Homo sapiens: one gene and its partners. The protein of the gene in region 2 purifies or fractionates together with the protein of the main gene of each other region. This does not show direct contact. Each region holds a gene or a part of one and is shown on either strand. Other genes may lie near its edges. The genes, in order: PBLD, PHYH and ABCD3.

Region 1 (3,500 bases), about 55 Mb from region 2:
CCAGCCTGTGCAACATAGCGAGAACCTGACTCTAAAAAAATTTTTTTTTACACAGTAACAACTGGTGAATCTAGAGAAAGGGAATATGCATGTTCATCATACCATTCTTGAAACTTTTCTGTAGGTTTTTAATTTTTCAAAATAAAATATTTAGAAAAATTATGTGGGTTTGAAAACAGAATTGAATTTCTATCCTGTGTGAGCTCCTAGCAGCAGTGTAAAAGTGGGCAAGTCATTTAATCTTATGGCCTCAGTTTCCACACCTTTAAGATGGGAATAATAGCACTTAAGTCAAGGTTTATTGTGAAGATATATACATGCATACGAATACACACACACACACACACACACACACACACACACACATTCCTCTTAACTCAAGAAAAAAGTGGACCCAGCTGGGCGTGGTGGCTCACACCTGTAATCCCAGCACCTTAGGAGGCTGAGGCAGGTGGATCACGAGGTCAGGAGTTTGAGACCAGCGTAGCCAATATGGAGAAACTCCATCTCTACTAAAAATACAAAAAAATTAGCCGAGAGTGGTGGCACGCGCCTGTAATCCCAGCTACTCGGGAAACTGAGGCAGGCGAGTTGCTTGAACCTGGGAGGCAGAGGTGGCAGTGAGCCAAGATCGCGCCACTGCACTCCAGCCTGGGTGACAGAGTGAGAGTCCGTCTCAAAAAAAAAAAAAAAAAAAAAAGTGGACCCGAAGTATGTTTTCCTTTTGAGAAGAAAAATCCATTTTTAATCAATAAAATGCTTACTAGTTAGATTTTGAATTTTAAAGAAGTTTCAAGAAAACACATTTTTATTTTGGCCAAATTTATTGCTCTTGATCTCCTGAAACTCTTTCTAACGGAAATCTACTAGTTAGATTTTGAATTTTAAAGAAATTTCAAGACAAATGCATTTTTGTTTTGGCCAAATTTATTGCTCTTGATCTCCTGAAACCCAGAAGAATTATAATTTTATATTAATAAATTCATAATTCACTTCTCTGAGTTATCCAAATTAAACACTCTTGTCTTTGATTCAAAATCTTTTGAAACATGTTCCATATAATTATATAGGGCATAAAAGTGTGATTATTGTGAAAAATCAGTCATGATTTTAAAACTACCGGCTGATATAAAAATCTTAGCAGGGGCCAGGTGTGGCAGCTTATGCCTGTAATCCCAGCACTTTAGGAGGGCGAGGCGGGTAGATCACCTGAGGTCAGGAGTTCGAGACCAGCCTGGCCAACATGGCAAAACCCCATCACTACTAAAAATACAAAAATTAGCCAGGAGTGGTGGTGCGCGCCTGTAATCCCAGCTACTCAGGAGGTTGAGCAGTAGTCACTTGAACCCGGGAGGCAGAGGTTGCAGTGAGCCGAGATCATGCCATTGCACTCCAGCCTGGGTGACAGAGCAAGACTCCATCTCAAAAATAAATAAATAAATAAATCATGGCAGGAAACATAATAAGCTTTTTTTTTTTTGAGACAGAGTCTCGCTCTGTCACCCTGGCTAGAGTGCAGTGGCACTGTCTCAGCTCACTGCGATCTATGCCTCTTGGGTTCAAGCGATTCTCTCATCTCAGCCTCCTGAGTACCTGGGACTACAGGTGCAGACCACCATGCCCAGCTAATTTTTTGTATTTTAGTAGAGATGGAGTTTCACCATGTTGCCTAGGCTGGTCTGGAACTCCTGAGCTCAGGCAATGCGCCCATATTGGCCTCCCAAAGTGCTAGAACTACAGGCATGATCCTCTACGCCCCGGCTTACCCAGAGAGAGACTGAAAGAAACAGAAAGAGAGAGAGAAAGAGATAACTCATCCCAGTGCCCAACACGTAGTAGGTACTTGATACATGTTAGCTTTTTATTTGAGTGGCTCAAAGTCATGCTTTAACTAGCCACACTACACTGCCTGCCCATCACAAAGACAAACGATTATTAACCCTGTAACATGCTACAGACAGGGAAAACAAACGTCTAGCAGAGAAAATGGACCCCTGCAAGGTTTCTAAGACGGAACAGCAATAAATAAATTAATGAGTACTGTGCTGAGCCAGGAGCACGGCAACACAACTAAGGGGATTTGTTAGAAATGCAGAGTCCGAGGCCCCCTGTCTTGGGCCTCCGACATTCTGAATCAGAATCTCCATTTTCACAAGCTCCCCAGGTGATCGTGTGCACATTAAAGTTTGAGAAACCCTTGTGTATAAGCCATGGTTGTGTTCAAGGGACTTAGCATCTAGGTGGGGAGTCAAGACAGCCACAGACAGCAACTGTGAACAATACCAGAGAAAATGTCATTGAGACACATAGATTTTGACAATAAATACTCTAAAACTTTAAAGATGAGGTCTTGTGGTGAACCTAGAAAAGAGGGGAGATTTCGGTGATTTGGACAGAAAAGTGTGTGCAAAGAGCTTTGTATTAGGACAGCTTCTTAGGCAAGTTGCTTGATCTCACTTCTGTTTTTTTGTTTTGTTCTGTTTTTTTGAGACGGAATCTCGCTCTGTCACCCAGGCTGGAGTGCAGTGGTGCGATCTGGCTCACTGCAACCTCTGCCTCCCAGGTTCAAGTGATTCTCCTGCCTCAGCGTCCTGAGTAGCTGGGATTACAAGTGTGTGCCACCATACCCGGCTGATTTTTGTATTTTATTAGAGATGAGGTTTCACCATGTTGGCCAGACTGGTCTCAAACTCCTGACCTCAGGTGATCCACCCACCTCGGCCTCCCAAAGTGCTGAGATTACAGGCATGAGCCACCGCACCCGCCCATTCTCTTGTTAAATCAGAGATTAAACTTTAACATAATGGACACTCTAGAATTCTAGAAGTAGGATGGTGAAAATGCAGTGGGATGAGTACCTGTCCCACCTGTGGGCACCTGTGGGCCTGGATAAGTGAGAAATCCCACCTAAGAAGAGGAGTAGAGGGGGCCACTGGAAAGTCCCAGCCAACAAGACAACAATGTTAACAATTGAACTCAAGCACTCTCCATGGCCTGTTGAATGTTTTCTGTGGAAACTGGTCCAGATGCACATGCACACAACACCTGATAGAAACTGGGAGGTATTTAAGCCCCTTAGTGCAGAGTCTGCAATCACAAGTCTCAGTGGTAATCGAAAGGTGATCAAGAAAAGCCTTTGCTGGCCTTCCTGGACTTGCCTCCTTGCTTGCAGAAACCTAAAGTGCCTGTCAGTCCTTCCTCTATATGATCTGGCGAAACTTCCTATCTTCGTCCTTCCTTTCTTTCTCTATAGCTCCCTGTGACCTTTAGGATAAGTCTTTAAAAGTATTAAAACATCCTACATTGTAGCCAAGCTCACCATCTATTGGTAATAGATTTCTTTGCAAATGGGCCCTTTCACACATTAGCTAGGACGCAAAGTCCACTGCCCACCAGCTCTTTAATCCTCTCTACCTTGGTATACTGCATTTCTTGCAATTTGAATTTATATAACTGTAACTTCTATTTCAGGACACTAAAAAATGCACCTGCTATTTGCC
Region 2 (3,730 bases):
CACGCCGGTAATCCCAGCACTTTGGGAGGCTGAGCCGGGTAGATTGCCTGAGGTCAGGAGTTCGAGACCAGCCTGACCAACATGGTGAAACCCTGTCTCTACTAAAAATACCAAAAAAAAAAAAAAAAAAAAAAAAAAAAAATTAGCTGGGTGTGGTGGTGGGCACCTGTAATCCCAGCTATTCAGGAGGATGAGGCAGGAGAATCACTCAAACCCCAGAGGCAGAGGTTGCAGTAAGCCGAGATTGAGCCACTGCACTCCAGCCTGGGCAACAGAGCAAGACTCCATTTCAAAAAAAATAAAAATAAAAAAAGTTATCTAAGAGGTCCTCACCCCCCACAACTATAGTCATTCCATGTCCAGTCGGAGTGCCCATGACCACACTGACATTTTCCCCTGGTTTGCTCCCTGAGTGTGGCTCCCGAACACCTGCTCTCCTCAAGGAGGGAGAGACCTGGTAATGCTAAGCTGCCTTCTATCACATAAACCCCTCCTGCAGATCAGAAGGAAGAAAAGGCAGAAAGGATAGGGGGACTCTCTCATGGCTGATTTTTACTGCAGGCACAGAGGAATTTCCCAGTGTAGTCCAAGTGATCTGCACTACAATCTCTGGACTTGAACTCCTGGGCTCCAGCGATCCTCCCCCCGCAGCCTCCTGAGTAGTTGGGACCACAGGTGCACATCCACGCCCAGCTTGAGGAAGGTTATTAAAATACAGAAACCTGGGTTATATTTCTCAATCAGTCTGTCTGCCAATGAGGTCTTAGATTCTACATTTTAGCAAGCACAAGACATTTTAAAGACAACTATAGGCTGGGCGCGGTGGCTCACACCTGTAATCCCAGCACTTTGGGAGGCCAAGGCAGGTGGATCATCTGAAGTCAGGAGTTCGAGACCAGCCTGACCAACATGGCGAAACCCTGTCTCTACTAAAAGTACAAAAATTAGCCAGGCTTGGTGGCACATGCCTGTAATCCCAGTTACTTGGGAGACTGAGGCAGGAGAATCAGGAATTGTTTGAACCTGGGAGGTGGGGGTTGCAGTGAGCCAAGATCGCGCTATCGCACTCCAGCCTGGGCAACAAGAGCAAAACTCCATCTCAAAAAAAAAAAAAAAAAAAAAAAAGACCACTATAGTTTGTGACTCATAGTAACAATTTTAATTGTGTTAGTAATAATAATGTCTTCCTATCAGGAATGCAAGAATCCACACTATCACAGCTAAAAAGAGCTGATCAAGCTTAGAGACGTCGAATGGCAGGAACCTTTGATATATGAACAGTTATGTCGGTTAAACTGCATTTTTGGGGAGCCAGTCATCTGAAAATTCAGCAACAGTCCTACAGTTAATATCTGAAATAATTACCACATTTCACTGTTGTTATAGTGTAAGTTATTTTAAGACTTCCTTATCCAAAGTTTGACAGTTGTACACATGATTACAGTTAGACATCAGCTATTTTATTATTTTGTTTTGTTTTGTTTTATTTATTATGTAGAGATAGGGTCTCACTGTGTCACGCAGGCTGGAGAGCATGCCATTATAGGTTCACTGCAGCCTTCAACTCCTGGGCTCAAGTGATCCTCCCACCTCAGCCTTCCAATAGCAGGGACTACAAGTGCATACCACCATGCCTGGATATTTTTAAATTTTATTTTTAGAGACAGAGCCTCACTATGTTGCCCAGGCCACTCTCAAACTCCTGGCCTCAGAGATCTTCCTCCCTTGGTCTCCTAAAATGCTGGGATTACAGGCATGAGTTACTGCACCCAGCCAACCTTACACATTTTAATGAAACCATTTTTTTTTCTTCTCCCTTACAATTACCAGAATCTGGAGGTTTGTTTATCAACATTGTGTGCATGGCCATAATATTAGGTCCAGTGAAGCACTCCACATATTTCAGAATCTAAGAAAGCAAAAAAAAAACAAAAACAAACCTTGTGGGAAATCAGAAGTATTGACAACTGGTACAAAGTACAGTAGCTATCCACACAAGAACCAAGAAGGCAATAGTTTAAGAACCAAGCGGTATTTCACAACATTGCAAACAAAGCATGAAAAACCCAGCCATTGGAAATCATTCTAAATCTATAACACGGAATGAAATGGGCTTTTTCTGAGCTAGCTGGGAATGAAACCATTTTTTCTCTACAAGAAACATAGGAGTTCCGATGAGATATTAATATAGCTTTCTTGTCAACCCAAGCAACAGAAGGTTGCTCAGTGGGAGGGCAGTTTCCTCTTCCTCATTGGAGCCTCTGCATACGAAGAGTCCCATACAATTCACAGCTGTCATGAATAGCCCGGAAGAAAGCAGAATGGTGGCTTGGAGGACATTTGACAATCGGGGACGCTTGGCACTTGACAACTCATTACTGAGATCTGGGAACCAGGAGGTGACGGGAAATGGGGAAGCAAGAGTGAACAAGCAAAGCAGGTCCCAGGAGTTAGATGAAAAATGTTAACCCAGTAATGACATGGGTCAGAGTGGCCGAGGGACACTGCATTATGAAGAAAAGGCTAACATGGGGAACCGTGACAGGGAGAGCTGGTTTAGTCGTGGGGCCTGGGAGCTGGGCTGCCGCTACCTTGTGTACAGAACCCAGCAACGGAGAGGGAAAAAGCAGAAAGGGCTCAACACTGAGGTCGGGTGCGTTAGCGCACACCTGTAATCCTAGCACTTTGGGTGGCCGAGGCGGGCGGATCACTTGAGGTCAGGAGTTCAAAACCAGCTTGGCCAACATGGCAAAACCATATCTCTACTAAAAATACAAAAATTCGCCGGGCATGGTGGCACACGTCGGTAATCCCAGCTACTTGGGAAGCTGAGGCAGGAGAATCACTTGAACCCAGGAGGCAGAGGTTGCAGTGAGCTGAGATCATACCACTGCAGTCCAGCCTGGGCAACAAGAGTGAGACTCTGTCTCAAAAAAAAAAAAAAAAAAGAAGAAGAAGAAGAAAATAAAACAACCCATGATATTCAAATTTTGATTCTGCAAAAAAAAGACTCCAAAAAATAAGCCACCTTCTACTGCTTCCTCACTTTTTGATCTCTTGTGTATAAGGAATATTGGCAATTTGAGTATGAAACCCTGGAAAGGTTATTAAAAGCCTAGCAGTCAGGCACACACTTGCTTTTTATAAAGCCTGGTATTTTTTTGTATTCATCTAGGCTGGGATTTTCTAAATGCCAGCCATTCAAGAGCCATCCTCACAACTTCTGACATAACTTGTACTGTTATTTAGCCAATGATTTCCCTACCCTTAGTTAGCTCACTTGTTTTTTGTTTTTTGTTTTTGTTTTTGTTTTTTTTGAGATGGAGTCTCGCTCTGTTGCCCAGGCTAGGTGCAATGACATGATCTCGGCTCACTGCAACCTCTGCCTCCCGGGTTTAAGCGATTCTCCTGCCTCAGCCTACTGAGTAGTTGGGATTACAGGCGCCCGCCACCATGCCCAGCTAATTTTTGTATTTTTAGTAGAGACTGGGTTTCACCATGTGTCTCAGGCTGGTCTCAAACTTCTGACCTCGTGATCTGCCCACCTCGGCCTCCCAAAGTGCTGGGATTACAGGCATGAGCCACCGCGCCCGGCAGTTAGCTCACTTCTCTTATTCAATCTTTGTTTTTTTCTTTTTTTCCAATATAGACAATGGTCTCACTATGTTGCCAGACTGGTCTTGAACACCTGGCCTCAAGTGATTCTCCTGTTTCAGCCTTCCAAAGTGCC
Region 3 (3,618 bases), on a different chromosome or scaffold from region 2:
GCTCATGGATGAAAGTTCTTATTCTTTGGTTTATTCTTCGGATTAAACTACCATTTCCCACTGCAGTTTCTGGAAGGTGTTAATAGGAATTATGTAGAAAAAGATGTTCCGTGGTCAATCATGTTTTTGAACCAATGGATTTCTTTACTGTGGGTCTTCGAAGAACCACTATTATGTTAATGTGATTCTCCAGAAGGATCTTCCTCTGTGCCTCAAATGGTGAGGCACTGTAATATTTGTTACATAAAAAAGAAAATAATTAAGAAAAAAAGCCCAAATTGTTGTTGTTGTTGTTTTGATGGCAAGAATCATAACAAAAGCAATTATAAGGCAGCTAGGAGAATACTTCTACGAGTAGGTTTAAGGTAACCCAGAAATCTGAAAATCTGAAACTTTCCCATGCCTTAAAATCTTTTCCAAGACGAATAGTATCTTTTAAGGTCTCCTGGCTGTTTGGTAGCATTTGTCAGGTACACAGATTTTACTGAACTTTTCTAAAAGAGAAATTCATTCAATTAAAAACCACACTTGGCAAAACTTTAAAAAAGAGACACTGTGCTAAAAGCATTTTCTGAATTTATTTTTGTGTTTTTCAAGTCAAGATTAAACTATCTATGTTTTCAAGTCAAGGCTGAATTATAAATGAACTTCTCAGTATTTAGATACCAGAATAAAAAGAACAAGCAAAGGTTGTATAGGATATCTGAGTTTTTTTTTTTTTTTTTTAATCTGAACAGAAAATAAGTATACAAGTTCGCTAAACAGAAGTGGTAAAAATTGAATGTTATGTATTATGGAATTCAGTACATCAGTTTACTTCGGTAGCCAGTGATTGTTATAGTTAATTCTGCAAAAAAACAAAACCAGTTATGCAAAAACAAGAGTACAAAATGCCCCTTTCTGAAGCTCAGTTTGAGAAACTGATTTCGTATCTAGCTTATTGATTATACTCAGTTTCAATTCTCCCTGTGCAAATAATACATAAAGTCATTAATGATGATTTGATGAACTGAAATCATCTTCGCTTAGGATCGTTTGACATCATAACCCAAATATAAAAAAGTTATTCAAGATTCACAGAGATAAAACAGTGCCTCGGAAACATAATTCACCCATGTATATATAATAATTTTAGAACATACTTTTTAAACATAAAATCACAGTCAAAGACAGTGATAGCATTGCATACTCAGTGCATTATTTCATGTAGTGCCTTCCTATGGCTCATTTGGAGTTTAATACCAAATAACCACCACACTTCTAATGAATGGGCTTCTAACACACACAAATTTGTCTAATTCTCTTAAAAATCTAGAACTCTTATAAGACCTTGAGCCTGGCATGTTAAGGACTTTGTGTTTTAATATCCCAAACATTGGGAAGATTAGGTGTGATACATGGTAACCCCTCCTTGTAAGCAAGACTGCACATATACTTTAAACAACTCAATACTGCAGACTGAGAGGGGTACATTTATCATTTAGTTAAGGAAAACCAAAATGGCTTTTCCTGGAGTCAAATGCACTCCAAGACACACACAAGGAATGAGTATTACTGTGGCAGCTAAAGAAATCTGCCACTGTATAATAAACGCTGTTATGCAATGATGTTAAACATTTAAATAATACATTATGATTTGTTTCCAACTACCACAGGGCACAGGAAAATGAAACTGAAGACTATCTTGCTAGAACAGGACAAATGATGACCCAGTTTTAAATAGGGTTCTTCACTGAAGGAAAAGATAGAGCCATAAAAGTCCAATTAGCTGACTTCGAATGGTTTACATCCCAGGATGAATCAGGTTACAGTGATTGAAGCCCAATTTAATTTAGGCAGGTTTTTAACCACAAGAATAAGGACATTCTTAGTACATATTATTAATTAAACCAACATATACACAATTAGCAATATCCTATATAATATTAAATGTTTTAACAACTTGTTCTCCATTATTCTGTATCTAGTTAATTTGTTGCTTTGTTTTTTTTTTTAAAAAAAACTAAGCTCAACTTTATTTTACAATGTACTTTGCCTTTCTAAGTATATTCTGTAATTATTTCACTGAAGCAGGTATAGTTCTCCAGATTTCTCTAAGAGCCAAACTCAACTGTATCTTCTGTTATCTGTTTGAATTCATAGTTGCCTCTGCCATCCATATGCAGGTAGTACTATGGGAAAGAAGGGGGAAAAAAAGTCAGTAACTAAGAGTGAATATAGTACTGTCTTTTATGAAAAGTAAAATACAGACTTCCTCATTATTTTAAGGGAGCTAAATCTATAAGCATCCCACAAATCAGAATGCTTCCGTAACTCCATGACCAAGGATCTCAGCTACCAGTAGGTTAAACTGTGCTAAATGCAAGACTGTTCCATAGGTCAGTCAGTATTGTTTCCTGTAGCCTGATTTCCTAATCAGCTTGAAATCTCCAGCTTAAGGCTTTTTATTTGTTTTTAATTTAGTAGAGGGGAAAAAGAGCTATAAAAACTGCCGATATATCCTAACCTCTGAAGACACAACAGCAGTTACAAAGCCTTCTGTTTTTATTTAGTGGCTTATTTTCAGAAAGCTTTCTGAGTTTCCATTTTCTGTATTACTATTTCTTAGCTATCCTGGCCCCTCACATTCTAGTTGTGTTCCCCTCCTTCACATGATCACTGGCGTGATGATTATTTTGCTACTTGTCTATACCTCCAAAAGAAGAGGAAGGGTGAAACCCAAATGCTCTCAATTCCTCTCAATGTCCTATGGCTATAATACTTATGAACTTCCGAGAAAACATAAAGGCTTGGCTATATTTTAAATGCCTTTGATTTCTAGTTATTCAATTTCCTGCTCAGTTCATGAAAAATTGACAAGTTATAATATGCCATAAAATAATAAAAGCTATCTTTAAAAGTCACACAGTTATATAGAATTTCACTGAATTTTATTAAGTACTTTCATATAGGCTACCTGTCTAATTTTCATGGTAATCTAAGAGATAGGAAGGTAAGGCTCAATAACTTCATTATACAAAGGAAGCAACTGAGGCTAGAAACTTTGGTGCCTGAACCCAGGCTCTCTGACTTCAAATCCTATGCTCTTCATTTTATCACTTGTAGACTATCATCTACATCCTAAAGTTCTTGAAGGTAAAAACTGTAATTAATTTGCATCCCTCATGACACTTAGCTCAGTATCTGGCAAAAAAAGGTCCTTAATCAGGTATGTATTTTGTGGAACAAGGCACCTTTACCATTATTCCAATTTTTCTCAAATCCTTGCTTTTACCTAAAATTTCTATATCATTTAGGAAGGAAAAGAAGGAAAGAAGAGAAGAAAGGAAAGAGGGAAGGGGGAAAGACAGAAAGGAAAGAAGAAAAGAAAGGAAGGAAGAAAGGAAGGGAGGGAGGGAGGGAGGAGGAAAGAAAATAAAGAGAATTAAACTGGGTTTACTTTCAGGTTTTGAGCATTTCACATTGAGTTGAAAAGAACTGACATAGTGAGAATGGCACTACTGAAGCACCAGAATAAGTAATACACGTGCACCAATGTAAGCCTCATTTGAATATCTTTGTAAATTATAGTGACTATCTAATGAATCCTACTTACTACAGTACATTGATAAACATAGC

Evidence for each region.
Region 1: the proteins of PHYH (region 2) and PBLD fractionate together in Homo sapiens (co-fractionation; one large-scale study listed by BioGRID). This does not show direct contact.
Region 3: the proteins of PHYH (region 2) and ABCD3 purify together in Homo sapiens (co-immunoprecipitation; one large-scale study listed by IntAct). This does not show direct contact.

The regions. Positions count from the first base shown.
Region 1 is NC_000010.11:68,298,429-68,301,928, forward strand, and holds part of PBLD (phenazine biosynthesis-like domain-containing protein), read right to left. Parts: intron 1-3,500.
Region 2 is NC_000010.11:13,290,004-13,293,733, forward strand, and holds part of PHYH (phytanoyl-CoA dioxygenase, peroxisomal isoform a precursor), read right to left. Parts: intron 1,910-3,730; coding exon 1,828-1,909; coding exon of another isoform or gene 1,822-1,827; intron 1-1,821. UniProt on the Homo sapiens protein: Catalyzes the 2-hydroxylation of not only racemic phytanoyl-CoA and the isomers of 3-methylhexadecanoyl-CoA, but also a variety of other mono-branched 3-methylacyl-CoA esters (with a chain length of at least seven carbon atoms) and straight-chain acyl-CoA esters (with a chain length longer than four carbon atoms).
Region 3 is NC_000001.11:94,515,605-94,519,222, reverse strand, and holds the end of ABCD3 (ATP-binding cassette sub-family D member 3), read right to left. Parts: intron 2,172-3,618; coding exon 2,094-2,171; 3' UTR 560-2,093; downstream 1-559. UniProt on the Homo sapiens protein: Broad substrate specificity ATP-dependent transporter of the ATP-binding cassette (ABC) family that catalyzes the transport of long-chain fatty acids (LCFA)-CoA, dicarboxylic acids-CoA, long-branched-chain fatty acids-CoA and bile acids from the cytosol to the peroxisome lumen for beta-oxydation.